4 linked regions of the Homo sapiens genome follow. The protein of the gene in region 1 interacts with the protein of each later gene in a pairwise test. Each region holds a gene or a part of one and is shown in the gene's direction. Other genes may lie near its edges. The genes, in order: UBASH3B, DMRT3, RNF216 and DOC2A.

What was found.
Region 2: the proteins of UBASH3B (region 1) and DMRT3 interact in binary tests that used the Homo sapiens proteins (3 or more experiments, as listed by UniProt).
Region 3: the proteins of UBASH3B (region 1) and RNF216 interact in binary tests that used the Homo sapiens proteins (3 or more experiments, as listed by UniProt).
Region 4: the proteins of UBASH3B (region 1) and DOC2A interact in binary tests that used the Homo sapiens proteins (3 or more experiments, as listed by UniProt).

What each region holds. Positions count from the first base shown.
Region 1 is NC_000011.10:122,791,175-122,799,299, forward strand, and holds part of UBASH3B (ubiquitin-associated and SH3 domain-containing protein B), read left to right. Parts: intron 1-3,527; coding exon 3,528-3,660; intron 3,661-4,981; coding exon 4,982-5,102; intron 5,103-5,736; coding exon 5,737-5,859; intron 5,860-7,767; coding exon 7,768-7,860; intron 7,861-8,125. UniProt on the Homo sapiens protein: Interferes with CBL-mediated down-regulation and degradation of receptor-type tyrosine kinases. Promotes accumulation of activated target receptors, such as T-cell receptors and EGFR, on the cell surface.
Region 2 is NC_000009.12:971,788-980,062, forward strand, and holds the start of DMRT3 (doublesex- and mab-3-related transcription factor 3), read left to right. Parts: upstream 1-4,867; 5' UTR 4,868-5,214; coding exon 5,215-5,668; intron 5,669-8,275. UniProt on the Homo sapiens protein: Probable transcription factor that plays a role in configuring the spinal circuits controlling stride in vertebrates.
Region 3 is NC_000007.14:5,708,191-5,716,315, reverse strand, and holds part of RNF216 (E3 ubiquitin-protein ligase RNF216), read left to right. Parts: intron 1-1,125; coding exon 1,126-1,263; intron 1,264-3,452; coding exon 3,453-3,601; intron 3,602-4,405; exon of another isoform or gene 4,406-4,476; coding exon 4,477-4,555; intron 4,556-8,125.
Region 4 is NC_000016.10:30,005,014-30,009,152, reverse strand, and holds the end of DOC2A (double C2-like domain-containing protein alpha), read left to right. Parts: intron 1-47; coding exon 48-157; intron 158-1,853; coding exon 1,854-1,980; intron 1,981-2,062; coding exon 2,063-2,122; intron 2,123-2,204; coding exon 2,205-2,368; intron 2,369-2,475; coding exon 2,476-2,557; intron 2,558-2,643; coding exon 2,644-2,740; intron 2,741-2,821; coding exon 2,822-2,967; 3' UTR 2,968-3,639; downstream 3,640-4,139. Other genes in the region: INO80E (INO80 complex subunit E), read right to left, coding at 4,102-4,139. UniProt on the Homo sapiens protein: Calcium sensor which most probably regulates fusion of vesicles with membranes. Binds calcium and phospholipids. May be involved in calcium dependent neurotransmitter release through the interaction with UNC13A.

The sequences.
Region 1 (8,125 bases):
TCCACAGCCAACCCTGCTCAAAGTAGGTAAATAAGTTAGGCATTAGTTTATTGTGATTAAGAATTTGAGACTGGATTCCAATAGTCTTGGATTTAAACGATAACTCTCCCACTTACCAGCTGTGTGGCCTTGGCAAAGTTGCATTACCTCTCTGAGCCTCTGTTTGCTCATCTAGAAAATGGAACTAATAATTGCACTTACCTCATAAGGTTGTTGGGAAGACTGCAATACAGAGCTTAGCTTTACATGGTTCAGAGTCTGGTGTATAGCGGTGACTATAAAATCGCCATTTGCATAATGATGATTATTCTCTTTTTTCTATCTTGTGTTTGCCAGTCCTCACTTAGTGCTCATCAAAGGAAATGTGTCTTCCATAAAAGCAATCCTGTAGATGAACTGCACTTTCCTATTTAACCCCAGAGGTCAAATGACTCAAGGAGGCAGAGCCCAGCTTCCTTGTAAGACAGACACAGACCTTCTCTCTCTCCTAACCCAAGAGAGACATCAGGAGGTAGAGCCCCAGGGGGATGTCAAGCATGGCCTGGCTGGCATGGTGGGAGTTGCCCAGGGGATCCAGGCAACAAGTCATGACTGGGGGTCAATGATTTTGACAACACTCCCTGCCAAGTGCTTCTCAGTTCTCTGAGTCCCTCCTAAGGAAATATGTTCTCTCCACACTAACTGGAGTGTCTTACTTGGTTCTGAGTTATGAACCAAGACAAGTTGATGAAGCTGGGTGAGCTGCCTGGCCGCTTGGGCTTAGCACAGGCCTGGTGTGTTGCAGGGAGAAGCCAGCTCTCCCGATGCTTGAGATGTTCTGGATGTCAGGCCCGGCTTCCTCCCTCCACTGTTCTGAGCAAGAAGCATCTGACTGTTTTCTTACTGGAACTGGCAGCTCCACGCTGTCTCAGAGTGAGTCAGGTCCTTTGATTATAATGACAGTTAAGAAGGGAAAGAGGCTGGCATTCGTCTTGCCATGGGAGACGAAGGAGGGAGAGAAGGGATCCTATCAGTATCTTCACAGCTGCGATAAAGAAACAAACAGATATGTACAAGAACGATTCTAGGTAGCCAGACATTTTGCACCCTGAAGCTTTGATGAGTCAGACAATAAAACTGGATTTTCTTTTTTTTTTTCTTTTTTTTTTTTTTAATTTTTTCTGAGATGGAGTCTCACTCTGTTGCCCAGGCTGGAGCACAGTGGTGCAATGTTAGCTCACTGTAACCTCTGCCTTCTGGGTTCCAGTGATTCTCCTGCCTCAGCCCCCCGAGTAGCCAGGACTACAGGTGTGTGCCACCACGCCCAGCTAATTTTTGTATTTTGAATAGAGACGGGGTTTCACCACGTTGGCCAGGCTGGTCTTGAACTCCTAACCCCAGGTGATCTGCCTGCCTCGGCCTCTCAAAGTGCTAGAATTACAGACGTGAGCCGCTGTGCCCAGCCAAACTGGATTTTCTTGAACTGTGTGATGTTTGGGAGGGTCTTAGTTTAAAATAAAGTAGAATAGCTGGTCTATTATACTGTGTGAACGGCACAAGATTTCCTTGGGCTACAGTTACTTAAATTTTACTGTAACAGGTTTCACTTGGCAACATACGCAGATGGACTGATGCTGCTTTGTTGAACTGTAGGTTCCTGGGTCCCACCCCTGACCTACTGAGTCACAATGTGTGAGGAGCAGAACCCCAGCACGAGTGTATTTTTTTTAAGTCTCCTGGTGATTCTGATATGCACAAGGGTTCAAAATCAGTTTTTCAGGGCATGAGACTTCTGAGACTTCGTTTATAAGTAGATAGAATGAGTCTATCACTTCTAGTGAAAAAGGAGCCACTTCTGAAAGTGAAGGAACAAAAATTTACTAACAACCAGTTTGCTGTATTATATTGGTGAATATAAAAAGGTATTTTCAAAAATAAAATTATGGGCCAGGTGCAGTGGCTCACTCCTGTAATCCCAGCATGACTTTGGGAGGCCAAGCAGGCAGATCACCTGAGGTCAGGAGTTTGAGACCAGCCTGGCCAACATGGTGAAACCCCATCTCTACTAAAAATACAAAAATTAGCCGGGCGTGGTGACGCACGCCTGTAATCCCAGCTACTCCAGAGGCTGAGGCAGGAAAATCGCTTGAACCTGCAGGGTGGAGGTTGCAGTGAGCCCAGATCATGTCATTGCCCTTCAGCCTGGGCGACAAGAGCAATACTCCGTCTCTAAAATAAAATAAAATTCTGATAATACAATGTTAAAAGTGAATAATCCAGAACAGGTGGTAGCCTAAACGGGTTGCCTCATCAACAGATGCAAGCCAGGAGTATATGGAGCAAACTGGGATGGATGGCTACCCAAATTGTAAAGAAGCAAGAAATCTATAAAATTTAAATGTTTCCCCTGGACTCTGCTCAGTGATTCCAAAGATGTTCACTGGATTTGCCTAACAACCATATTTACATTGCAATGTTTATTAGATAAAGCTTTGTGGAAGTCTTAACTATTGACAATAATTTAAGCTTGGCAGGTTTTGACTGTCTTCCTTTCAGCAAGACCTCTTTTAGGCTTCTGTAGCTATAGTGTTACACTCAGAAATGACAGTTCTTGGCTCACAGCTCTAAACGTCTGGTGAGAATGGTCTTCTCTGAAATAATTCTATTTGTAATCATCTTGTTGGAGGCGTGATTGAGGGGGAGATAGGGTTTGGAGACCGAAGAGGGTAGAATAGGGGACTTTGGCACAAAGTTTCCTTGACTGTTAGGAGCCACTGGCTGAGGTGGAGATGGTGAAAATACCCCCCATCACTCTTCACTTCAGATGGAAATTACCACGGGAAATATTAAAGGCAACAGGGATCGTAGATTTCTTTTGAACCAGAAAAATAGCTGCAAACAGATCATTGATACGTTGTTATTCTTGAACTTGTCTTTGGTGCCAACCATGCATGGCACAAAATCACTAGGATCCATCCCTGCCCAAAGGAATGAATATATCTGTCCTCAGTGCAGAAATCCATCTACCTCTAATTTATTTATTTACTTATTTTTATTCTTATTTCTTTTTGAGACGGGGTTTCGCCGTATCGCCCGGGCTGGAGTGCAGTGGTGCGATCTTGGCTCACTACAACCTCCACCTCCCAGGTTCAAGAGATTCTCATACCTCAGCCTCCCTAGCAGCTGGGACTACAGGCACGCACAACCACGCCCAGCTGATTTTTTGTATTTTTAGTAGAGATGGGATTTCGCCACATTGGCCAGGCTGGTCTCAAACTCCTGACCTCAGGTGATCCGCCTGCCTCGGCGTCCCAAAGTGCAGGTGTGATCACCACACCCGGCCTACCTCTAATTTATTAACTGCAAGACTTCAGTATAAAACAAGGTATTTTTCCCTTAGGAATGAGGCCACTCCTGCTCAGCATCCCCCATCATTGTGCTACCCACAGAGGGCTTTGAGTTAACTCCCACACTCCTGTTGAGCCCAGGAGGAAGTGCTGATGACTGCTGGCCAGAGCAGTTAACACCTTCCTTATCTTCCTCTGCAGTTCTTATTCAATCTTAAATACATCGTCATCCAACTCTCTCACGTTTGGGGATGGAGTATTGGAGAGGCGGCCTTATGAGGACCAGGGGCTCGGGGAGACGACTCCTCTTACTATCATCTGCCAGCCCATGCAGGTAAGGCTGATTGCTAGGGTCACACCCCCAACTCTAACCAGGATTCACTGAGAACCTATTTATTAAGCATGAGGCCTTGCCCTTGCTGTCTCCAAAGCTTCCACGATCTCTTGGGAAGAAAGTACACCAAATTATAAAAGATATACAAAAATTCAAGGCTAGGAAGAGTCAGATGAGCAGTACTGACAGTTACTTCCAGCATTTGAACCTAGGTTCATAAGGAACGTTGTTCCACAGAGATAGGAGGAGAGTTTATCTCTAAAGTAGGAATAATGCCCATAGTTGTATCTGTTTTGTAGGTTGTTACAAAGATTAAAGAAAATAATAAAATTAGGCTCTTAGCACCATAACTGGCATATAATGAGTGCTCAGTATGTGTTAACTTTTTCAAGGAAGGTTGGAGATGGAAGGAGGCAGGGAGTCGTTGTTGAACAGTACAAATAGAGGCAAGCTGAAAGTTCAAGCATGTTGAGGATCAAGAGAGTAACCATTGTGGCTGGAGCCCAGGATTTAAATTAAGGAACAACAGGAAAAGAGATGGGAAGGATCATGCCACCGTTCCACATATTAACCACGTCAGGGCAACTAGAAGCAAATGTGAAGTGCTGGCCCGCGCTAAGGAAACTGGAAAAGCTGACTGCATCAGAAAGACGGAATGCAGAAACAGCTGTAAGGTTCCATCCAGCAGTTATAGAAGCCAAAGTCATTTGGACAAGCCTTTGACTAGATTTGCCTATGTCATCACCCAGAGGTAGCAGTTGTCTCATTTTGGGGATCATATATATAGTCAGACAGCAGAGGCTACATAGTGATTAGAATAGGAAAACAGGGTCTCATTACTGGAGCAGACCATGAGGACCATGTGGTCTGTCCACACACTTTAGAGAAGAGGTAGACACATTTGTGATCACAGAAGTCCTCACTCCCTGAAGAAGTTGATGAATTGCCCCTTTTTGGGGGGAAGGTGCCCCACTAGATGGCTCTCTCTACATGAATGGCTAGTTTTACCTCTGAGCTGTAACTTAAAGTGGACGTCATATTTTAGTGGCCACTTTAATGGCCAAATGCTACTCCTACAAAGAGCAGCCGTAGCAACAATAATGCCCTTTTCATAACCCTTCCTATTTTATAAAGCACATGCAGTTTATCTTATTCCAGCCTCCAAATAACTTATGAGGTCTGTAGGACGAGTCTTACTGTCCTCACCAAGTCATACCTTGGCAGAACTTTGGTAGTAGAGCTCAGCTCACCTGGCACCTGGCTCCAAGACATGTCCACTTTGCCATGTGTGTCTTCACTAATAGCCTTTCTTTCTCTGCAGCCGCTGAGGGTCAACAGCCAGCCCGGCCCCCAGAAGCGATGCCTTTTTGTGTGTCGGCATGGTGAGAGGATGGATGTTGTGTTTGGGAAGTACTGGCTGTCCCAGTGCTTCGATGCCAAAGGTGAGTTGGTGGTGGGCCTGCTCAGCACTGCCATACCCATAGTGGCCTCTAGGCGGCACAGTCAAGCTACAGTTATCTAGATGGAGTCATTCATAGTTTTGCGTACTATAGAAGATGTCTGTCATGTGTAAGCCCCTCCTGATTGTCTTGAGCTTTAGAGAAGAAGTAAGTGTTCTTGTCCCCATTCTATAAACTGGGATACCACGGACCAAAGAAGACAGATGTCTTGCCCCAGGTCATATGGCAAAGTCAGCAGCAGAAACGTGCCCTGATCCTATGGCCAGAGTTCCTGCCATTAAATCTCCCTGGCTCGCTCGGTTCCATTTTCATTTGAGTAGCATTTGAAGATACAGAGGCTTGCTTAACCAGGGAATCTCACCTGCTTTAAAGTGCCTGGTTATTACCTTCACTGAGAAACTACCTCATGTCACTTTTGTCAGTAGAATGGAAAAGTGGATTCCAAGTCACTTTATGAAACAAAATGTCAGCCTTGATATTTTCTATCAGCTCCAGAGAGCTCAGTGTGATCTCTTTGGCCAAGAAGGAATGGGGGTGGAGAGTGTCAGGATCAGTAAGGGAGTCCCAAGTAAACAAGAAATGTATGTATCCTCTGTCTAACCTCTTTGTTTTTCAGGCCGCTACATACGCACCAACCTGAACATGCCTCATAGTTTACCTCAGCGGAGTGGTGGTTTCCGAGATTACGAGAAAGATGCTCCCATCACTGTGTTTGGATGCATGCAAGCAAGACTAGTGGGTAAGTATCCTGGAGTGACTGCACTCCAGGCATTTCTTGCCTCCTCCTTCAAAACACTGGTACCATGGATATGCAAGACACTTCCTGTGGGTTTCTATAACTTTCCTACAAGTTTCCTCAATTCAAAAGGAACTTACTACACAACCATTAAGTTTAGGACACTGTGCTCAGCCCTGGGTTGGTTGACCAAAGTGAATGAGGTGTGGTCCTTATTGAGGAGCACGTGATCCAGTAATGGCGTGGGTTACTGTGCTCACTCTTGGATGTAGCAGACAGGTCAGCTTCTAGTTCAAGACAGCAGCATCTGCCAAACATGGCTGTGGAAGAGGACAAGAGTGAAGAAGATGGACCCTGGACTTGCTGAATTTGTAAAGGCCAACTGATCCTTTGAAGATGCCTAGCTCTTTGCAAGCCCATTCCATTACTGGCACGGGGAGATAGTATTTTCTGTTCAGTCACTTAGCAGATATTTAGTGCTCACTTACTTTGTGCAAGGTATTGGACTAGGGGAACCCAAGTGTGAGTCAGGGAAACAAACTTATGTGTGGATAAATATCATACAATATGATATACATAGAGCTATGCACTAATGTGTATGTATTGATTGCATGCATCCAGACATAGTGATATGCATAGAGCTATGCATGGTCACAGAATATTATGGGAACACAAAAAGACATCTAAGAGTGAAGAGGTGAGCTGAGAGCTGAAGTAGAAGTTAGCTGGGCAAAGAAGGAATAGGAGTGAGGAAATGGCATTCTCAGTGGGAGGGACCACATAAAGAGTCTTAGGCTTGAGAAACAGCCTCAGGAATGCAGGGGAAACAAAGTGTCTTGTGTCTAGAGTATAAATTGTGAGGCAAGGCAGAGATGAGGCTAGCAAGATGGATAAAGGCAAGTTCATGGAAGACCTTGGCCACCATATTAAGGTGTTTGGATTTAATCCAGTAGACAAAATAACTGGATTCCAGGCCAGGCGTGATGGCTCTCACCTATAATCTAGCACTTTGAGAGGCTGAGGCAAGAGGATTGCTTGAGACCTGGAGTTCGAGGCTGCACTGAGGTATGATCACACCCCTGCACTCCAGCCTGAGTGACAGAGCAAAACCCTATCTCTAAAAATTAAATTAAGAATAATAATAAATTTTTTAAAGAAGTGGATTTTATGAGGATAGCATTAAAGTATGAGGTGTTGGGATTTATCTCTGGTATCTAAAAATATGACATGTTGAGATTTTGGTTAGCACAGAATAAAATTAAAACAAGACCTAATATTCATAAAATAAATCCTCTTTCACAAACTTGAAGCCAAAGTATTGTCCTGTTTCTAAATATCTCCTAGCTAAAGCCTTTACCACTTGTTAGCACCAGAGGGAAGGGAAAGAAAAGACAAGAAGGGGCCAGGTGTGGTGGCTCACGCCTGTAATCCCAGCACTTTGGGAGGCTGAGGTAGGCGGATCACGAGGTCAAGAGATCGAGACCATTCTGGCCAACATGTTGAAACCCCATCTCTACTAAAAGTACAAAAATTAGCTGGGTGTGGTGGTGCGCGCCTGTACTCCCAGCTACTCGGGAGGCTGAGGCAGGAGAATGGCTTGAACCCGGGAGGCAGAGGTTGCAGTGAGCCGAGATCACACCACTGCACTCCAGCCTGGCGACAGAGCGAGACTCCATCTCAAAAAAAAAAAAAAAAGACAAGACAAGAAGGGCTCTGTCGCTTGCTCTCATAGGAACGCCGATGAGGGGTTTTGTTAGAAACTAACAAAGGCTGAAACTACTGGCTCTATGTGAGCCCCAGTTAGGAAAGAGGGGTTTACAGGAGCTTACTGCTTGGCCCCCTCTCACACTGCGGGTCAAGGTGAGACTGAGTAAATCCATCAGACTGATTTTTTTGTGGTTTTCTTTGCAGGTGAAGCCTTATTAGAGAGCAATACCATTATCGATCATGTCTATTGCTCCCCGTCCCTTCGCTGCGTTCAGACTGCACACAATATCTTGAAAGGTAAGACTTGCAGGTTGACAAAAACAAGTAGTCCATCCCTCTCTTTCTAGGCAGCCCCACACATAAATTATCTTAGAGCCATGGGACATTTGCCAGTTGAAAGCTTTGAATCTGGAATGAAGCAAGGATTCTTTCAGAAGGCGATCTTTGCACAAGTCACAAAAACATACTCTGGGCCGGGCACGGTGGCTCATGCCTGTAATCCCAGCACTTTGGGAGGCTGAGGCAGGCAGATCACCTGAGGTCAGGAGTTCGAGACCAGCCT
Region 2 (8,275 bases), on another chromosome or scaffold:
CCTGCGCCTTTGAAGCTGGGCCACTGCCAACCGCTCGCGATTCTCACCTTCAACAGTCGCCCCCTTACCCCTCCCCCACCCGCCTGCCCTCGGGAGCGGGTCGCCTCCACTCCACCACCTGTTTAAGTTCCTCCCCCTCGGCGCCCCTCCAGTCCCCACCCCGGCCCCGGTCCAAAAAACCAGCAAACGGAACTTTTCCACAGTTGAAAGCCGCGGCCCGCGAGGCCGGGCTGGGAGGGGAAAGCGGGGCGTGTCTGGGGGGCGGGGCCCCGAGCACTCCGGAAGTTGCCCCGCCCAGGAGGCTCCTGGGAAAGTGAGGAGAGGGCCCGGGCCTACTTTCGTCCTGGTGTGGCGCCCCTCAGCCTCCCCTCCTCCCAGTTCCCGCGCCTCCGCAGGGCGCCTCGGCCTGGCCTCCAGGCAAAGTTCGCGCCCCCTGTTCCTGGGGTGTCGGCCGCGCGGGCCGTTTCCCTTCATTACTCCCGGGCCCCTGAATCCGAACGCTTTCCCAGAAGCGCGCAAATCCGCTTGCTTTCCCCGCGGCTGGGCTTTGTTCAGGGACAGCAAAGGAGGAGGCGGGAGGCTGGTGAGGTTTTCTGGAAAAGGGGCTTGTCCCGAGGAGGAAGTGCCCCAGATCCCTGAGAGCCAACGCTCTGGGGAGAAGAAACTTTCCTTCTCCCTTGAATGTTGCTCAGATTACCTAAAATTATTTTTTCAGCCCTTGTGTTCTAAAGTCGCAGGGTAAAGGTTATCTTAAGACTTAACATCAGCGCTGCTCATTTGTACGTTGGTGGAGACGTGCCTTTTTTCCTTTGCACTTAAGGTGGACAGGGTCTGCGACGCTCCCTTCCAGGACGGTGTGGGGAAGCGGCCGACGTCCCCAGCCGGACTCACGCCCTCCTACTACTGGGCGTCGGCTCCGCCGCGGGCGCTCCCGACAGGGAGCTGGAGTCGGACGAGCGGCTGCCCCCAGGGCCTCCAGGAACCGCGGCCCAGCGGGGAGCGCCCCAGGCTAGCGCTTTTCCAGTTCCCTTCGAAAGCGCGGGGCTGAGGTCGCGGCGCTGGGCCCTCGGATGAAGCCGTGCTGTAGCTACACCTGAACCCCGCGAAAGGCTGGCGCGGTCGTGTATCCAGGCTGGGTCTGAGGAATCCGCAAGCGGGAGAGCGCTAACTCCTAGGCGTGAGCCGCTGCTGGCTTCGAGAGTTCGAGAACATGAAGGACCTGGCTTCTCCCGCCCGGTCGGCTTAGGGCCAGCGAGGTCACAGGCCGTTCTGCTCTCCCTGTTTGTCCCCAAAGGCCTCGGCACGTGGGGATCTGGAGCAGGCCTCAGGCTGCGACCCGTCTCTTCCCCTACCAAAATTATGTGGGAACAGCGGTCCAGGACCTTCCCCTGTTCAGCGGTATCCCCGGGCCGGTGACCCCGGGGTTCAGTCGTCTCCCCGACCCCAAGCGGCCTCTGCTTTCCACCCCTCGCCCCGGAGGGCGGCTTCGGGGATCTCATGGGGGGTTTGCATGAGTCTGTCCCCAGCCAACTGAGGGAGAACCAAGACATTATTGCCATCTAAAGAAATTGATTGCTGGATGCCCCACTGCCTGGCTGGACATTCCCCCAACTCCTTTCAATTTGAAGCGGGCCGAAGAGCGAGGTCGAGAAGCTGACCAGGTGAGAGCTGAGTAGTTCACGCACAGGAAGAGGGGACAAGTTTTTCTGTTTTCACAGGGGTTCCTCACGCTCAGGCTTCCAGCGTCTGCCTGCACTGACATCATCGTGGTCGCGATGAAAACAGTGAAATAGGAACCCTGACCTCCCCTTCCATGAGAATCCAGCAGAGAATTTGCTGATGTGTTATACATCCGGGACAATCGGAAACTGCCGTTTTGATTGAGTATTAGTTGGGATGAGGAGCACATACCAGGACTCCCAGATCTGGAGTCCTCACTTTCTCAGCAAGGGCACCTGCATCCTGAGCTTTTACATGTACACACACCCAGCGATTGTGTGTGCCGAGAAAGACCCACATACGCACATTGTTTTTTCCTCTTCCACGATTATCTGCCAGAATTCTACTCAGTTAATTGCGGTTTGAGAACACACCATCCACAGGAGAGCACCAATGGATCTAGTCTAGTGAGGTTACATTTACTTGTAATCCTCCCCCTTCCCTTTCCCATTTCTTTGATGATTTTTCCCATAAGTGTGTAAGCTACTGGGACTTAGTAGAAGCAGGCCGCTCCTCCTAAATGTGATTTGGACCATATGCTTTCTACATTCATTCCCGCTTCGGCTTTTCTTCTCTGCACTAACTGCTAACACGTTATAGTCACCTTGAAATTTCCTCTGCTATTTTCCAATTAAAAGCTTAATAGCCCTGGAAACGGAGTTCATGTGGTGAAGTTTACCACAGCCCCTTGTTCTGAAAGGCTTTCTGCTGGGATCCCATTATGTGCTTGAATAAACCCTTTCTGCAAACAGAAATGGGACTCGGGGTTGTCAGGTGTTGGGTTACAATAGACTTTGAGGCAGGGGACATTTTACCAACATAAATACAAACCTGTCCCTATAGGGAGATGTTGTCAAATACTGGGATATGGAAAACATTCCCATCAAATATGAGAAAAGGATTACTGCACTATATCAAATGAGTATTTAGATCTCAGCCCCCGATGTGCACCGGAGTGAAACGGGCCCCCGGGACCAAATGCCAGACTGTTTGAGTGGCAACGAGATAGGGTGGCTAGGTGACCGACGGGGGAAAAGGGGTCGCCTTGGTAGTGAAAGTGCCCCCACAAACCTGGTGCAGAGCTCTTCTGCTTTCCTTTTAAAAATTTATTCATACTCAAGTTCTTTATACTTCCTCGTTTCACTGTTTGAAGAAAATCGGAAGAAATTTGGTTTTGAAAAAAGTCGTTGGTCCCCACGTTTCCAAGAGATCCGGAGGTTTCAGCGCAATAGTTTTCAGTTAAGGTGTCATTTGAGGCCCTCTATATCGCAGCACGTTAAATGACTCGCGTCCAGCTCCCCATTTCCTAGCCTCGGGCCTACAGGGCTGGGGGCGACCTCTGCCTCCCGTCCCCAGAGCTTACAAAATTCCTTCCAGTTGTATTTTAGGGCTTGTTTTCCTAGAGAAGGTTGAGACTAGAGGAAGGATTAAAGTGGTGGGGGAAGGGGCAAGACCGAGGGGTCCCTACCCCACGCGGCTTTGGAGGATGGCCTCCCAGGGTTAGCACTCGAATGCTAGAGCTTCTTGTCCACACTCTACCAGGTCAGTGTCCCGCGATCCCCACCTCCCGGACGCGTATGAAACGGGAACAGCTAAGGGCTTCAAGGGAAACACACAACTGGGGTTCGGTTTTCAACCCTCCTCTCCGCAAATCAGCCTTCTGGGCAGAGGGTTGGCTGCTAGAACGCCTGGAGGTGCTTCCCTTGAATTCATGGCAAACACCAGAGGAAAGTTTTCAGGTTGCTTGCTTACTTCCAGGGCAGTACAGAGAAAAGCGGCCTCCCCGAGGGGACAAGGGCCTCTGTGCCCATGAGGGGTCGGACATTGCAGCGGACTTGCCTACGCTCTCATCTAGCATTTGATTCCCCACCAGGAGATGGGCTTGGTGCACGCTCTCAGAAGCGCATCCACCGAAGGCTCTGGAACTGCCCCGCTTCGCATAGAGCTATTGTGCTGCCCTGCAGTGTATCCACTTGTTTTGTTTGTTTGTTTGTTTTTTGGTTTTTGCTTGTTTGCTGATGGGCAGTGGGGAGGTGCGAGGGTGGAGGGCCTTCTTTGTGCATATATAGCGATAGTCTGCACTAGGCCAAGCCCGCTACTCCTGGGAGAATGGGAACACGCAAATAATCTAAACAAAGTTTTCTGCTGTCATCTTGTGAAGGACCCTCTCCCCCAAGACATCTATGACTGGGGTCTATGGGTTAAGGAGGTGAAAAAGTGGCCCCATCCCATATCCATAACTGAATCACAGAATCCGTGGGGATTTGAACTGAGTGGCTGGCGCAAGACCTCCGTTTGCTTCCAGTAGCTGCTGGGAGCGAGGGAAGAGGATATCGGTAACTTTGGGGGCGCCAATGTGGCTTCTGTGTCTGCCCCTTGAAAGTTTATACCCGGCGCTTAACAAATCCTTTACAGGAGCACGTACGTCCCTGACCTTTCAGGATACTGTTTTATATTAAAACATGGACAGGAGGGTAGAAAAGTAAAATTCGCCTGCAAAATGGCTTGTCATCCTTGGGCCGGCAGATCTCCAAAACCATTTTCTTCTAAAGCAACAAAAGAGAAAAAAATACGTTCTAAAAGGAAATTACGAAAAGAGCCTAACTTTCCTAAACCAACATCACTTCACTCCCCTATCCTAAACTCCACCCAGGTCCGGGGTGCAACCGCAACACTCCCGTAGGTTCGAGTTCTCCCGGAGCTGAGCTTCTGCGGCCAAATGTCGGGATAAAAGCGGCCTTGGGCTCGGAAAAACGCGGCCAGATCTGGACTGGAGGGAGGAGAAGAGAGAGAAGCGGAGCGGCCACCTCACTCGCTTACAGGCACCCCCACCCTCACTCCCGCTGGTCCTCCCCTTCTCCGCCCCGCGAGCACCGCCGCGTTCTGGAGCGCCGCAGTCTCCAGCCGCGGGCTGGGGTAGCGGAGAGGGCTTGGAGGAGGGGGCCGCGAGCGCCCCCGCGAGAGTGGCCTGGCTGCAGGTGGCAAGGAAGGTGAAGTGCAGGCACCCGAGGGGCGCAAAGGAGGAGGAAGGCGTGGGGCGGGGAGTGCAAGGAGACAGGGACCCCAGGGGCGGGGGTGGCGGTGGGAAGGAGGAGGGGTTGGGGGAGGGCGGCGGAGGTGTTGGGTCCGGCCGGCTCACGAGGGAGCTGCAGAAGAGCTGGCTCAGACCTTAATCAGAGCTGTCGCCGGCTCCTTGCAGCCGCCGCAGCGCCTCCGCGAAGGAGGACGTGCCGACCCGGCTGCGCGCCCAAGGCAGAGGCCCGCGTCGGCGTTGGCTGGGCGTGAGCTGGGAGGCCGAGCTGTGAGCGCGAAGGGAGCTGGAGAGACGACTGCGGCACCTCCGGCCGCCCCGGAGCACACACGACCACCGGGGCTGCGGGACCAAGGGCCGCGTCGCCCGGAGGCCGCCCCTGAGCGGGCCTCGCAGCCCCGCCGTCCAGCGCTCCCTGGCCCTCTCCCGCAGCCAGGCTGCCAACTCATTCGGGAGCCCGGGGCATGAACGGCTACGGCTCCCCCTACCTGTACATGGGCGGCCCGGTGTCGCAGCCGCCACGGGCGCCCCTGCAGCGCACGCCCAAGTGCGCGCGCTGCCGCAACCATGGCGTCCTGTCCTGGCTCAAGGGCCACAAGCGTTACTGCCGCTTCAAGGACTGCACCTGCGAGAAGTGCATCCTCATCATCGAGCGGCAGCGGGTCATGGCTGCGCAGGTGGCGCTGCGCCGGCAGCAGGCCAACGAGAGCTTGGAGAGCCTCATCCCCGACTCGCTGCGCGCTCTGCCAGGGCCCCCGCCGCCGGGGGACGCCGTCGCCGCCCCGCAGCCGCCGCCAGCCTCTCAGCCGTCGCAGCCGCAGCCGCCGCGCCCTGCTGCCGAGTTGGCCGCGGCCGCCGCGCTGCGTTGGACTGCCGAGCCGCAGCCCGGGGCTCTGCAGGCGCAGCTCGCCAAGCCAGGTAAGAGCGTCTGAGGTGCGGGAGTTTGGCCGGGCGCGGGGGCAACTTCGGAGTGCCAGCTGCAGCTCCACTTGGGAGGACTGGAGGCAAAGTTTTGGGACGTGGGCCTGTCGGGGCTTTCCTTCCTACTCTCCGCCAGGCCGGGGCTTCCTCTCCCGGGAGAAGCCGGCTGAGTCTGGACCCAGCGCGAGTGGCACTCGCGCCCGCAGGGAAGGCGCCTCCGGGCAGCCAAACGACGGGACTGTGCGTCAGTATCGCCAGGTGCCTTCCCAGGTTGAAGGGTTCGGAACGTGTCAGATTGAGCAGGGAGACAACGGAGTTGAGACAGGACAAAATTAAAACCCACGTGCGCACACTCACTACGGTGGGGTCGGATTTTCCTGGCTGCAGGCTTTAGAGGTCCTTGCCATTTGGGGGTTGGAATGGGTAGGTAGGTGTAGGGAAGGAGCCAAGGCCAACACTCGGCTGAGTCGAGCTGGCTGTGCTTCTCGGCCGGCCCGGCCCTGCCCAGGGCCCAGGAAAATTTGAGTGAGGACAAGTATCCAACTCTCAGAACCCTGGCCTTTCTAGCTTTGCTCCGTGGCCTCCAGACTCTTGTAACTGGTGAAATAAGTTCCATTTAGCAATGATAGTAAAAGGGTCCGGAAAGGCTTGTGAGCTGATAGCGGGAAAAGAATCTGATGCGCCCAGAATTCACTCCTTTGCAGAACCTCCTAGATCCTTTAACACTGTTCCCCAGGCTGCCCTCAGCTGTCTTCGTGGTTTAAAGGAATACAAAAAATCTGATCCCCCACCACCCATCCGTTTCCATCCAGGCCTCCTGAGCTTGGCAGGCCTGAGTTGAGTCTCTTAGTCTCTCTCTTCCTGGGGAATTTCTAGCTTGCGGTTCTGCCCAGCTCAAGAGCTCTTTTGATGGCTCTTGGAATTCAGTGGATATGTGTTTGGTGTTTCTCCTTAACTGGGGCAAATGTGCAAAGGAACACAGCCCACCTTCTCCCGGAAGGGGGCATGCTGGAATTAGGAGTGGGAAGGTCCAGAGCCCTCCTGTAAGTAGAACTGTGGCAAAACTGGTACCTACACTGACCTGCCAACTCCCTAAAGACGGTACCCCTAGCTTCGGAGAAAGGCTTTCAGGAGCCCAGGACTGCTTTGTCTGGATCCTGTGGAGCTGAGGAAGTGAGGCGGACTCACCTGTTTCATGGTGAGTCAACGGGTGACTGGCAGGTGGAGTTCTGCTGCCCTGTCTTTCCGCCATGCTTTCCAGGCCTGAAGCTCTGAGAACAGCCTGTGTGACAGTAGAGCTGGGAATTTTAAAGCCTGAAGAGAGTTTGCCGAACTTGGATTTTGTGGATATTTAATCCAAGTTAGCATATAAACGTTTCTCAGAAATGATCGCCAGTTGTCTCTCTTTTGTCTGTCTCATCTTTTTATATTTATGGATTTGTCACAGACGAAGAGGAGGGAGGAGAAAAAGGTTTTATTATTTTTCTCCCATAGGTTTGAACAAATAACAAGGAAGAGTTTGGTCTCAGCTCTAGAATTGGATTTGTACCAATATATTTTCTTAATTTTTTTCCATTTCCAGCTTCTCTGGTTCCGTTTCCCCCAGGACTAGGGCAGAGGCCTGAGTTAACATCAGAGGTTAACTCAGCAGCACTCCTGTGATCGGGCATTGGGTTCTGTGGTTTTTATCCAAGGAGATGCCTTTCACATCCTGTGTTCTTCAGAGTATTCTTTGGGATAGCTAAAGTTCATGATTTCTAAAGAGTCACAAAACTAAAAACACAACCCCAGGAGGAGGAGGAGTGAGGGCAGGCAGGAAGGCAGAGTAGGCAGCGGCAGCAGGATACGTGCTTTGGGAGAATAGAAAAAGGAAACGGATCTCAACTGGACAAAGCAGAGCTGTGCTGTTTTACTCCTACTTAGCACTCAGGGATAGCCTGAGCCTTCCGAATTGAAAACAAGTAATTGCAAAGGAGAATAGGATTTATCACAAGGCGAGGTCCAAGTGAGGACTTTGGGGGACCGAGGCATCAGGGACCAAGGGCTCAGTTTCCAGCTGGTCACCCCCACCCCCCCATACCTTGTACATTGATGTACACAACTTTTGTTTTCTTCTTTCACTTGCTGTGACCCCATAATTCCCATTTTTTTAAAAAAAAGCAAATCACCACTCTGATGGGGAGTGGGGAGAAAGGTAGGAAAATAATAGATGATTGTTTAGGAAGACAGGCATACAAGTGGATCCATTCTACACAGTGCTTGTAGAAATAAAGTCTATTTGGGGTTTAAGCTGAAGAAAACTGCTCACTGAGACTGCCTGTTGCTATAGGTATTATACCCTTTTTGCAGTTGTTCTAATAATGTATTTGTGTATAACATTCCATATGTATTTAGAAGCATATCAGAACTACTCCTGAATAAGTGCAGAGAGTAAGCAAAACTAAGTGCAGAGAGTAAGCAGAACTCTATTGGAATGGTAGTTCCACATGTACATTAAGTATACAGACCATCAGAAATCTTTCAATATCTGCTGGCAATGTAGATCTATTACTTTGTGAACTTTGACTTTGAAATGTGGTTAGTCTTTTTGCGGGGCAAAGGACC
Region 3 (8,125 bases), on another chromosome or scaffold:
CTGGTCTTGAACTCCTGACCTCAGGTGATCCACCCATCTCAACCTCCCAAAGTGCTGGGAACAGGTGTGAGCCACTACACCTGGCTACTGACCCTTTCTAATGTGGTATTAAGAATGGGTTGGTGGCCGGGCACCGTGGCTCGTGCCTGTAATTCCAGCACTTTGAGAGGCCAAAATGGGAGGATTGCTTGAGCCCAGGAGTTTGAGACTAACCTGGTCAACATAGCAGCACCCCATTTCTAATAAAAATTAAAAATAAATAAATAAAAGAATGGGGCTGGATGCAGTGGCTCACTCCTGTAATCCCAGCACTTCGGAAGGCCAAGGCAGGCACATCACGAGGTCAGGGGTTTGAGACCAGCCTGGTCAACGTGGTGAAACCCCGTCTCTACTAAAAATACAAAAAATTAGCTGGGCATAGTGGCGGGTGCCTGTAATCCCCACTACTCGGGAGGCTGAAGCAGGAGAATCGCTTGAACCTGGGAGGTGGAGGTTGCAGTGAGCCAAGATCGTGCCACTGCACTCCAGTTCGGGCAACAGAGTGAGACTCCATCTCAAAAAAAAAAAAAAAAAAAAAAAGAATGAGTTGGTGATTGGATCCGTTGCTATAGTTAATAAAAGGAGTCAATAGCCTGGTACATTACTTGAGGTTGCTGCTTTAGTTATAGCTTCAATAGTCCCTTAAAATAAAGCGCAGACCTCGATAGACCCATTCACACTCCTTATGACAAGAACAAAATTCAACTTTTGAAAGTTTTTTGGGTAACATCTCTCATACTCCTTATCCTTGCTGTTTATAATCACATTAGCATCTGAGTACAGATGTTCTAGTTCCCTTTGCACCATGGGATTGAATATGATAACTTTATATAAAGAATTACTCTAAAGAATACCAGAAAAAAAACACGAAAACCTCGCTGTTTTAGGTATGGATTAATACTGTGTTAGTATCTTGAGCTAGATTTATATAGCACGAAACAGCATATCATTGTTTTATGGCCCCTAAAATGGGTTGCTTTACCTCAGAATTTGTGTGGGGGGTGGCAGAGAGATGAGGATGGGAGACAAGGCTCCCCCTCTCCTTAAGTGCAGGACATTTCATGTGTGTTTCTTGACTGCCTGCAGGATGGCCAGCTGATTGAGTGTCGCTGCTGCTATGGGGAATTTCCATTCGAGGAGCTGACGCAGTGCGCAGATGCTCACTTGTTCTGCAAAGAGTGTCTCATCAGATATGCCCAAGAGGCAGTCTTTGGATCTGGAAAGGTAAGAACTGTGTAATATGTCCCATGTATATAGGACACATTCCTGGAGTCTAAGGAGACCATGTTGATAGATAAGTGTAAGTGCCTCTTTGAGGGTGAGGTGGAGTTCTGCTGGTATGCTTATGTGTACATTACCTGATGTATGTGATTATGTGGGTTCTCTGAGCACAGCAGATTTCTTTTCAGGGCACAGTAGAATTCTTCCACACTCCCACGCCTAGCCGCAGAGGAGCACCTCCTTCGTTCATCATCTTATTTGTATTCAGAGGGAAGGTTACCTCAGAAAGAGAGAACCTTGCAGCCTATTGGATTAAATATATATTAAAATAACATAACTTACTTTACACAAGATCATATTTCTCTCTCCAAAGTGAGTTTCTCTGGACACCAGCATAACAAACACAGTATGGGAATTTTACATTGTTTTACACCACCGAGTTTGTGGTATTTTGTTCCAGCAGCAATAGAAAACTAACACAGTGATTAAGAAGATGACTTTTTGCCCGGGTGGCTCACGCCTGTAATCCCAGCACTTTGGGAGGCCGAGGTAGGCGGATCACCTGAGGTCAGGAGTTCAAGACCAGCCTGACCAACATGGAGAAACCCCATCTCTACTAAAAATACAAGATTAGCCAGACCTGGTGGCGCATGCCTATAATCTCAGCTACTGGGGAGGCTGAGGCAGGAGAATTGGTTGAATCTGGGAGGCAGAGGTTGTGGTGAGTTGAGATCGTGCCATTGCACTCCAGCCTGGGCAACAAGAGTGAAACTCCATCTCTAAAAAAGAAAAATAGGCCAGGCGCTGTGGCTTATGCCTGTAATCCCAGCACTTTGGGAGGCTAAGTTGGGTGGATCACAAGATTAGGAGTTCGAGACTAGCCTGGCCAACATGGTGAAACCCCATCTCTGCTAAAAATACAAAAATTAGCCAGGTGTGGTGGTGGGTGCCTGTAATCCAGCTACTCGGGAGGCTTAGTGAGCTGAGATCGCACCACTGCACTCCAGCCTTGGTGACAGGGCGAGACTCTGTCTCAGAAAAATAAATAAATAAAGTTTATGTTTTTTCAAAGAGCGTGACCTTTGGAGTCAAGCAGAATGCATTGGGCCATGCCCCCATCAGCCATACTAGCCCTGTGATCTTGAGCAATTTAAATTCCTTAAGCCACTGTTTCTTCCTCTGTAAAATGGAAATAATCATAGCATTGTTTTGAAAGCTAAATGAGGTGATGAGTTTAATGAACTTATTGTTTGACACATGGTAAATGCCTCATAAATTTTAGCTAGTTATTTTTAAAATGTCGTCTTTTTCCATTTGTTTTCTTTGGTGTTTGTCTTTCATGTGGGAAGCATTCCTCATGTCTGACACTTTTTGTTCATGTTAAAGAGCTGTTTGAAAGCTGTGTGAGTAGTGGGGCTTATAGACCAGTGAGTTTGACTCTAGGTGCATAGGAGCCAGTTAGCTTTTATATTATGAACCTGAATGGCTCTGAAGTCTCTTACCTGGGGTGATTCAGTCTGCCTCCTGCCTGGTGGGTGTGAGCCCATTTTCCAACATTCTGAAACTGAGGGGGAGGAAAGGTCTGGAGAGTTCTCTGTTCATTATGCAGACTCCATTTCAGACTCTGACTTCAGGCCACCCCTCAGCTCTGCTCTCCTCTATGAGTGGTTTCCAGTCCAGAGCCGTGTGGTCCAGCTGTTCAGGAGATCTTCCTCATTTCTCTCAGAGTCAGCCAATTCCTTCTGAAGCGGGTAGGAACTAGAGGCTCCACCCATGTCCCTGTTTTCAGTTTATTACTTTGAGTCCCTGCCCCTCCCCACCACTCAGCTCTGCTTTCCAGAGGTTCTCCAGCTTTCTAATATCTGTAGAGGGGAACAACTTCTCCCCAGCATCTCCTTTTCAGACCCTAAGCTATGGGCTTCTGTGTGTGGTCTGCTAAGCCATTTGCCCTTCCGCCACTTTCAGTCTTTGTGGATTGTGATTTGGGCTAATAGAGGTCCTTTAGTGATATCAAAGATGTACTGGATTTTTGTTTCATGGTTTCCATGATTTAAGTGTGATTTCTCAGAGATGAACAGGCAGAGAGATCCTTGCTATGTTGTCTCAGGATCTATGTTTTTAACCACTGACGCTTTTTATTTTTCTATAAATGGTATTGATTTTTTTTTCTTTGCCTTTTCGCCTTTTTCTAGTTGGAGCTCAGCTGCATGGAAGGCAGCTGCACGTGTTCGTTCCCAACCAGTGAGCTGGAGAAGGTGCTCCCCCAGACCATCCTGTATAAGTACTATGAGCGAAAAGCCGAGGAGGAGGTTGCGGCAGCCTACGCCGACGAGCTTGTCAGGTTCGTTCTCAGGCAGAGCGTGCCATCTGCCAACTCTTCCCCATTGTGAAAACTACCTGGGCACTTGCATCAGATGATGAAAATTGTGTTTATCTTCCAGGTTTTTTGACATTTCTTGCTGAGAAATAAGATTATCAATAATTTTACTTATTTATTTTTATTTTTTACGCCTCAGAACCATTGAGTAACCAGTAATTCTATTAATGGAAAAATCTGCCCCTCAAACTTCTTTTTTTTTTTTTGAGGTGGATTCTCGCTCTGTCGCCCAGGCTGGAGTACAGTGGTGCAATCTTGGCTCACTACAACCTCCGCCTCCTGAGTTCAAGCAATTCTCATGCCTCAGCCTCCTGAGTAGCCTGGATTACAGGCGTGCACCACCACATTCCAGCTTATTTTTAGTAGAGACGAGGTTTTGCCATGTTGGCCAGGCTGGTCTCCAACTCCTGACCTCAAATGATCCACCCACCTCAGCCTCCCAAAGTGCTGGGACTACAGGCGTGAGCCACCGCGCCCAGACTGTAGCTCAAACTTCTGTCTACATATCTTGGCACCCCCAAATCTTCTGGCCCGTAGATACAATCATGGTGCCCTGGGCTGGAGGGAAATCGGTATATGCAAGGAGTTCTCATTAAGGTTGGGACGTGTTTATTGAGTGGTTTATATTCAGTCAGGACCTCATGTGGTGCTTATGTTTCCTGATAAGAGCCAGCACAAAGAAGAGGTTCAATCTGTGTTTTTAAGGAAAACTAAGGAGTATAAAGGGGATGTGAATGTCCAGCTCAAAACTCCATCTTCATATGAACAGCCACATGGAGCTGGAACCAGATCAGGCTTTAATGTTTGAAGTAATGTCAGTTCTGCTGTTCTGACTCTAGGTGCCCGTCCTGTAGCTTTCCGGCTCTGTTGGACAGTGATGTGAAGAGGTTCAGCTGTCCTAATCCTCACTGCCGAAAGGTAGGGAGGCACATTTTTTTCTAGATGTATATTGAATTATGGTATTATGGGCTGCCCTCATGGCCCAAATATCTGCTGTTTACCTGACTGCTGATGTATAAGAAGGATTTGAGTGCTTTCCTTTTCATAAGCAAATGAGGACGAGTACTTTGTGAGTAACGGTTGACATGGTTACTGAGATGGCAGCCACTCTTGCCACTCCAGTTACAAAGCTCTGGATTCCTATTTTATATCATCTTCTTTAGGACAGATACTATAATGTAAAGTGGGAAGTGTTTAGTTTTTCTTCCACTGTGTCAACATTTTTCTTGCTTGCTCTCTTCACCACCTGTGCTCAAATAGCCCCTGCTACCCCTCCCTCCCCACACACACACCTTTTGCCATTTTCAAAGTCCAAACGACGCTTCTTTGATTGAGGAACTGGGCATCTTAGTGGCATCTCCATCACATCTGGTAGGTTATTTATTTGACTGTTTCTCCTCATGAGAACTGACTATATTACGTGGGAGCAGAGCTGTCTAGGTGCATTACTGTTGCAGATCTTTGTTCCCTTTAACTTGGCGCCCTGTGAACTAAGAATGTCTTAAAATCTTTCAGCTATTTAGAAGCCACTTAGAGTTTTTAGTGAATATTAGCATCCACCTAGACAAATACGCTCTAAGCCATTTTTCTAAAATTGCATGATTAGAGTTGAACACTGCAATATCTTTGCCTTGGGGAGAGTAAAGAAATTAAGGTAGAGATTAGAAAAGGAAGAATAAACTAAACTAATGGATCAAAACTTTATTTCTTTTGTTTTCAGCATTAATATTTCTGGCCATTTTATATGTTCGCACCCCAGGCTGTTGCTATAACAATTGTCACAACAGTCGCTGGCATCTTGCAGCTCTTAAGAAAGCAGAGTGCTAGCGTGTCCCTTGTGTGCTTCCAGTGGGTCAGGTGTTGGACTGCCTGGGGAGGTGATGCCTACGCTAAGATGCAGCAGATAAGGAGGAAGTAGCCAAAGGATGGAAAGGGTGGGAGTGGAGTGGAGATGGAGAAATGTTCTAGGCCCCGGGAGTGGCAGCAATGTGGACGCTTACTGGTGCTAGGAGTGTGAAGGAGGCTCATAAGCTGAGTAGGGGCAGGCCCATGCAGCACACTGTCCTGAGGTGGGGAGAGATAAAATATAAGGAAAGTCTACTTGCCTATTGAGTAGTCCAGGTGAGAAATGTACAGCACTGCACAGCCTCTTGGGTCTTCATGAGTTGCTTAGAAGGAGCTGGGAACTACATTTCCTGGTAAGGTTTCAAAGAAGGTCTGCCAGTGAAAGTGCTTATGTACAATTGGGAAGGCCAAAGAAGAGGAGAGACCATTATTCTCTGAGGACGTTTTTTGTTTTTGTTTTTGTTTTTAAGTTTTGAGGCAGGGTCTCACTCTGTTGCCCAGGCTGGAGTGCAGTGGCACGATCTCAGCTCACTGCAACCTCCGCCTCCTGGCTTCAAGCAGTTCTCCTGCCTCAGCCTCCCAAGTAGCTGGGATCACAGGTATGCGCCACCACGCCTGACTGATTTTTATATTTTTAGTAGAGATGAGGTTTCACCATGTTGGCCAGGCTGGTCCTGAACTCCTGGCCTCCAGTGATCCGCCCACCTCAGCCTTCCAAAGTGCTGGTATTACAGGTGTAAGCCACCACCCCCAGCCTGAAGACATTTAAAAGCAGCTGCATTGGTTGCCCAGTGGCTCATGCCTGTAATCCCAGCACTTTGAGAGGCTGAGGCAGGAGGATCTCTTGAGACTAGGAGTCCGAGACCAGCCTGAGCAACATAGACCCTATCTCTACAAAAAAAATTTTAAAACTCAGCTAGGCATGGTGGTGTGTGCCCATAGTCCTAGCTACTTAAGAGACTGAGGCAGGACAATCAGTTGAGCCCAGGAGATTGAGGCTGCACTGAGCCATGATTGCGCCACTGCACTCTAGCCTGGACAACAGACTAAGACTCTGTCTTTAAAAGAAAAAAATTTAAAAAATAAAAGCCTGAGGGCACACATGAGTCTGGAACAGCATCTAGTGAGTATCAACTTGGCATGTTGGTGGGAGCTTCCCAGGGGCTCTTAAGATCCCAAATAGGAACACCACATATGTTTTTGTTTGTCTATGGGAGGAATATACATGGCCTGCTGAACTTGAAGGTAGCCATGTAGCTTCTTGTGGTCAGTGAAACATGTGAGTAGTTAGATCACTTGCAGAAAAAGCCGTAAAGGCATGTGGTGTGGGGTAGTGTCAAGATGACAGAAGAGAAAGCTCCAGACCCTCTTTTTCCCATAGAGAGAACAGTTCAACAACAACGGAAGGACCATTTCTCTCTGTGAGAAATCCAGAAACCAGTTGCATCAAAGGCTGGGGAATTTGTGACGCTGGCTCTCCAGAGTTCCTCCCCCTGGCACAGCACCATGTGATTGGGAGGAAGCTCCCAACTCCTGGCATCTTTCTGGGGAGGAAAAAGAAGACTGGAACATATATCTAATATTCAGACCTTTCAGGAGGCTGCTCAAGGGACTGGTTTCTGTCTTGTCTCACAGGAAAGGGCACCAGGTTGGGGACCTCTGAGGACAAATGGGATGGTGAAACTAGCACGTACTGACTCCTCATTGCCCTCTCCCTGCTCTTCTCGGGAGGGAAGGAGTTGGAGCATGAGTCCAGCATTCTAGGTTTTCTGGAGTCTGCCCAAGACTCTCGTTCCTGTCTCACTCGATGAAGCACTGATGGGACCTGGCATGGTCTAGGTCCCTGGGGGCTGCTGAGAACAAGAGAAAGCTGGGTGGTTTGTACTGCGCCAGAGGACCCACGGTACAGTAGGCAGAGTCCAGTGCACCTCGAAGGCTGCTTTTTGGGTCCAGGGGAAGAGTAGAGCATGTGTTCAGCATTTGGGCTTCTCAAGGGGCTGCCTGAGGGACTGGCTTCTGTCTCACCCAACTCACTGCTGGCAGAACCCAACCTACTCTAGATGCCTTGGAGCTGCTGAGGCCAAAAAAGAGCTGGGCAGCTTACAGCAGCTCCAGAGGGCCTGTGATACCTCAGACAGGCACCAGAAGAAGCAAGAGCTTGCAAGCTCCTGAAAAAAGGAAAACAAAAGCCTGAGCACTTATATTAGCCTACGATTTAGCAAAATCTTCTTGCAGGAAGCCTATTTTAGAATAAAGTATGAGTATCTCATGTAATTTATTGAGTACTGTACTGAAAGTGAAAAAGAGAATGATTGTATGGGTACTTGAATTACAGTTTCTACTGAATGTGTATCACTTTCACACCACAGTAAAGTCAAAAAGTGTAAAACCATTGTAAGTTGGAGACCATCTGTATATGCACCCGACATCAGTGCACCCAAATATGTGAAGCAAATATTGACAGCCGAAGGGAAAAATAACACAAAAATAGTAGGAGATTGCAATACCTCACTTTCAATCATTGTTAGCACCACCAGGCAGAAGATTAGTAAGGAAACAGCTGACTTGAACAACACTATAGACCTAACAGACACATACAAAATATTCTAGCCAACAGGCACAGAAAACACTTTTTCTCCTCTG
Region 4 (4,139 bases), on another chromosome or scaffold:
TGGGGCTGGAGGACAGGTATTGAGAACCTTTCATCCCCACATCCCAGGCCAATAAGCTAAAAACGAAGACTCAGAGGAACACACTGAATCCCGTGTGGAATGAGGACCTGACTTACAGCGGGATCACAGATGACGACATCACGCACAAGGTGCTCAGGTGAGGGCCCCCCTCCCCACCACCCAGCAGCAGCTCGGGGACAGCTGACATTGTAACCGCTGGTTGGTTGATCTATGTCCCATTAAGCCCGTACCTCTCTGATGCTCAAGAACCATCAGCGGCTCCCTAGCCCCTTTGGCAGCAGGCCAAAATTCTTCCCTGCCATTCCTGCCCCTCAATATCTCCTGCCTGCCAGGTGTGGTGGCTCACACCTGTAATCCCAGCACTTTGGGAGGCCGAGGTGGGCGGATCACTTGAGGTCAGGAGTTCAAGACCAGCCTGGCCAACTTGGTGAAACCCCCGTCTCTACTAAAAATACAAAAATTAGCCGGGCGTGGTGGCATGTACCTGTAAATCCCAGCTACTCGAGAGGCTGAGGCAGGAGGATCACTTGAACCCGGGAGGCAGAGGTTGCAGTGAGCCGAGATCGCACCACTGCACTCCAGCCTGGGTGATGGAGACTCCATCTCAAAAACAAAACAAAAGTATCTTCTGCCCCTCAAACAGAGGACTCCCTTCTTCCAACTGGCCAGTTCCACAACTCCTGAACTTTTCCTGTTGTTTTCTATCTGGAAAGCTCCTTCCTGCCAGCCTAAATTCCGCTCATCTGAGGTTCAGTCCAAGCTCTGCCCCCTCCCAAAAACGTTCCTGGGTTGCCGAGACCCCTTCTCAGAGCCCTTGGCTTAAGCCAGACCTCTGCAGCTTTGGTCTGCCCCTTCCGTGCCTTGAGTTCCCCTAAAATCTCTTAAGGAGTGAAGTCTTCAGGGACAGGGAACTTGCTCCGTCATCCTAGGAGATGGAGATGTAGGGAGAGTACTCCCTCAAGTCAGGTGGCGGGCAGCGAAACCCAGGCTCTGGAGAGACCTCTGCCTTTGTGCTTGGATTTGCAGCTGGGACCTTCCCTGATGGTCAGGGCTGTGCAGCAGAGAGGCCACCTTGGTTTCAGCTATTCGGGTGGAATGGAGGGGAGGCCAGAGGCCAAAACCAGAATGAGACCAAAAAATGAGCGCTCACCAGGGCCCAGCCCAGGCTTAGCATTTTCACATTTCTTTCTTTCCCTTGACTATCTCCATTTACAGATGGGAATTGAGGCATAGGGTGATCAAGTGACTTGCCCAAGGTCACACAGGTGGCTCAGAAGTGGCAGGGCTGGGATCTGCCCATCCTCCATGCCACAGATGCCCAGCCTGGTAGTGGGTCACTGCGGAGGCAGGGCAGGGACTGCAGGAGGACAGGTGGCTGGAAAGCAATCATTTCTTAGTGAGTCCCTGCGGGGCTGGCTCTCTGCTGCATGCAGGAAAAGGACGGGGGTTCCCGAGGAGGCGTGGGGTACTGGTCTGGCTGCCCAAGGCTCCAAGGCCCTTCTAGCTCTCACGGCCTGTGTCTATGGCCACATCCACCGTGGTGTTCGGCTCCTGCCCCCAGGCCCTGAATGGAGGCAGTGAGCAGCGTGCTCCAAGATTTCTGAGGGCTTCCCACAATGGCTGAGCATGTCCTGATGGACCAGGGACAGCCGGGTGGCTGCAGAGGGAGGGACAGAGGAATGGGCAAATCTGCTTGTCCTTCTCAAGTGCCAGCCTGTCTTCCAGATGAGACGTAGTGTTTAGGGCAGAGCTGGGCTGGTCCAAGGCCCTTCCTACACCCCGGAACGGGGCTCAGGTACCCCAGGGGCCCTGACACTGCAGTTCCCGACCAGGATCGCCGTCTGTGATGAGGACAAGCTGAGTCACAATGAGTTTATTGGGGAGATCCGCGTGCCCCTCCGCCGCCTCAAGCCTTCGCAGAAGAAGCATTTTAACATCTGCCTCGAGCGCCAGGTCCCGGTCTGTGTGGGGGCTGCAGGGGCGCCAGGGGAGGGGGCCCTGGGGAGGCCAGGCTTCCAGAACCTTCTCTTTGCCCCCTCAGCTGGCGTCCCCCTCTTCCATGTCAGCGGCGCTGAGGGGCATCTCCTGTTATCTGAAGGAGGTGAGGCACCTCATGGGGATGGGGATGCATGTGGGTGGGAGGCTGCAGGGGCCCAGGCTGACCCTGAGTCTGTGCCCCGCAGTTGGAGCAGGCGGAGCAGGGGCAGGGGCTGCTGGAGGAGCGTGGCCGCATCCTGCTGAGTCTCAGCTACAGCTCGCGGCGCCGGGGACTGCTGGTAGGCATCTTGCGCTGCGCCCATCTGGCTGCCATGGACGTCAACGGTTACTCGGACCCCTACGTCAAGACGTGAGCCCTTGCTCTGACCCTCTCCTCCCCAGGGAGCCTGCCCTGGCCTGAGTTGGGCCTGGCCTGTCCCTCACCCCTCAGTTCGTCTCCCTCCACCCCACCCCCAGGTACCTGAGGCCCGATGTGGACAAGAAATCCAAGCATAAGACGTGTGTGAAGAAGAAGACTCTCAACCCAGAATTTAACGAGGTACCCAGGAGGGGACGGGACATGGAGGGAGGCCAGGGAGGGGCTGGGGAGCTGGCTCACGAACGGGTGGCCGGCCTTGTCCCTAGGAGTTTTTCTACGAGATAGAGCTCTCCACTCTGGCCACCAAGACCCTGGAAGTCACCGTCTGGGACTATGACATTGGCAAATCCAATGACTTCATTGGTGAGGGAGGAGCTGGCTGCGGGTGTTGAGGGCGGGCAAGTGGCAGGGAGGTGGCCCTGACCCTGCCCACCTGCTCCCCAGGTGGCGTGTCCCTGGGGCCAGGTGCCCGAGGCGAGGCTCGGAAGCACTGGAGTGACTGCCTGCAGCAGCCGGACGCAGCCCTGGAGCGCTGGCACACCCTGACCAGTGAGCTGCCCCCTGCGGCCGGGGCTCTGTCCTCAGCCTGAGTGGACAGCAGTGTCCCGGCACAGGCCCATCGAGCCGGGTCCAGTACCCAACCTTCGCACGAGTGTGTTGCACGTTTACACAGGGTGGGCTGCCCCCACCCTGCACTACCTATTTTTGTGAGTCTCCGTGACCCGGGTCTGTCTGCTCATGAGGGGCTGCGGAGTTCTATATTCACATATGCAAACCTCCTGCCTGACTCGCTAGTCCCTGCAAATATGCAAACCCCCCATCATCTGCACACCCGGGCAGTGCTCAGAGCCCGGCCCCAGGCCCCCGCGCTCCTCACTCCTGCCTCTCCACGCTGCCCCGTCCCTCTCCCCCAACAGGGAGGAGGTCGGATTAGGGGAGGTTCAGAGGAGGAGAATGTCTCAAAAAAAAAGGACAAAAAACAAACCCAGAGCCACTCCTTTAATACAGAAACTTCATTGAAAAAACCTAGCCCTGTACAGCTGCCCTTTTAAAGAGGTGGCCATTGCAGGGTCTCTGCCTCCCCAGCAGGTGGCAGATGCTCCCGGCCACTCGTTTAAATAACTGTCCCCTGGAGGGGGCCGGGGTTTGAAGGCAGGGCCCCTGCCACCCTCCTGGGGGACACCCGTGCATGTTTACGCCTTTTCTGGTTGTGTCAGTGGCCGGAGCATGGCAGCTGGGCATCAATAAACACCTCCGAGGAAGCTGGACTCGTGTGTGCTGGCACGGGGAGGGCGCCGGGCGGGGCCGTGGTGGGCATGGCGTGATGTCACGGTCACTCCGGGATGTCGATCACCAGGTCATCGTCTCCATCCAAGGCATCGTCCCCGCTACCTGCATCGCTGAACATCTGCCGAGGGACCGTGCTCAGGATCGTGGGGGGGGGCATCTTAGGGGGTGGGAGGGGGGTCAGGGTTGTCCCGACCCCAGCCCCAGAACCCCGGCCAGGGAAGGTCAGCGGCCCTCCCACAGGGCAGTCGGGGGGTCCCACCGCCATCTGCAGCAGGGGGAAGAAACACAGGGGGACTAGTCAGGGAGGCACTGGGGCCTCAGGAGACTAGGCTTTGCCCCCCAGGGCAGCTCTGGGGAGGGGGAAGAGGCCCTGGGCACAGCTGGGCCAACCCATGCTGCACTCAGGGCCTGCCCCCCTCAGCCCCTCGAGAGCCTCAAACCAGCAAGTGCCTGGGGGTGGTGATAGAGGTGA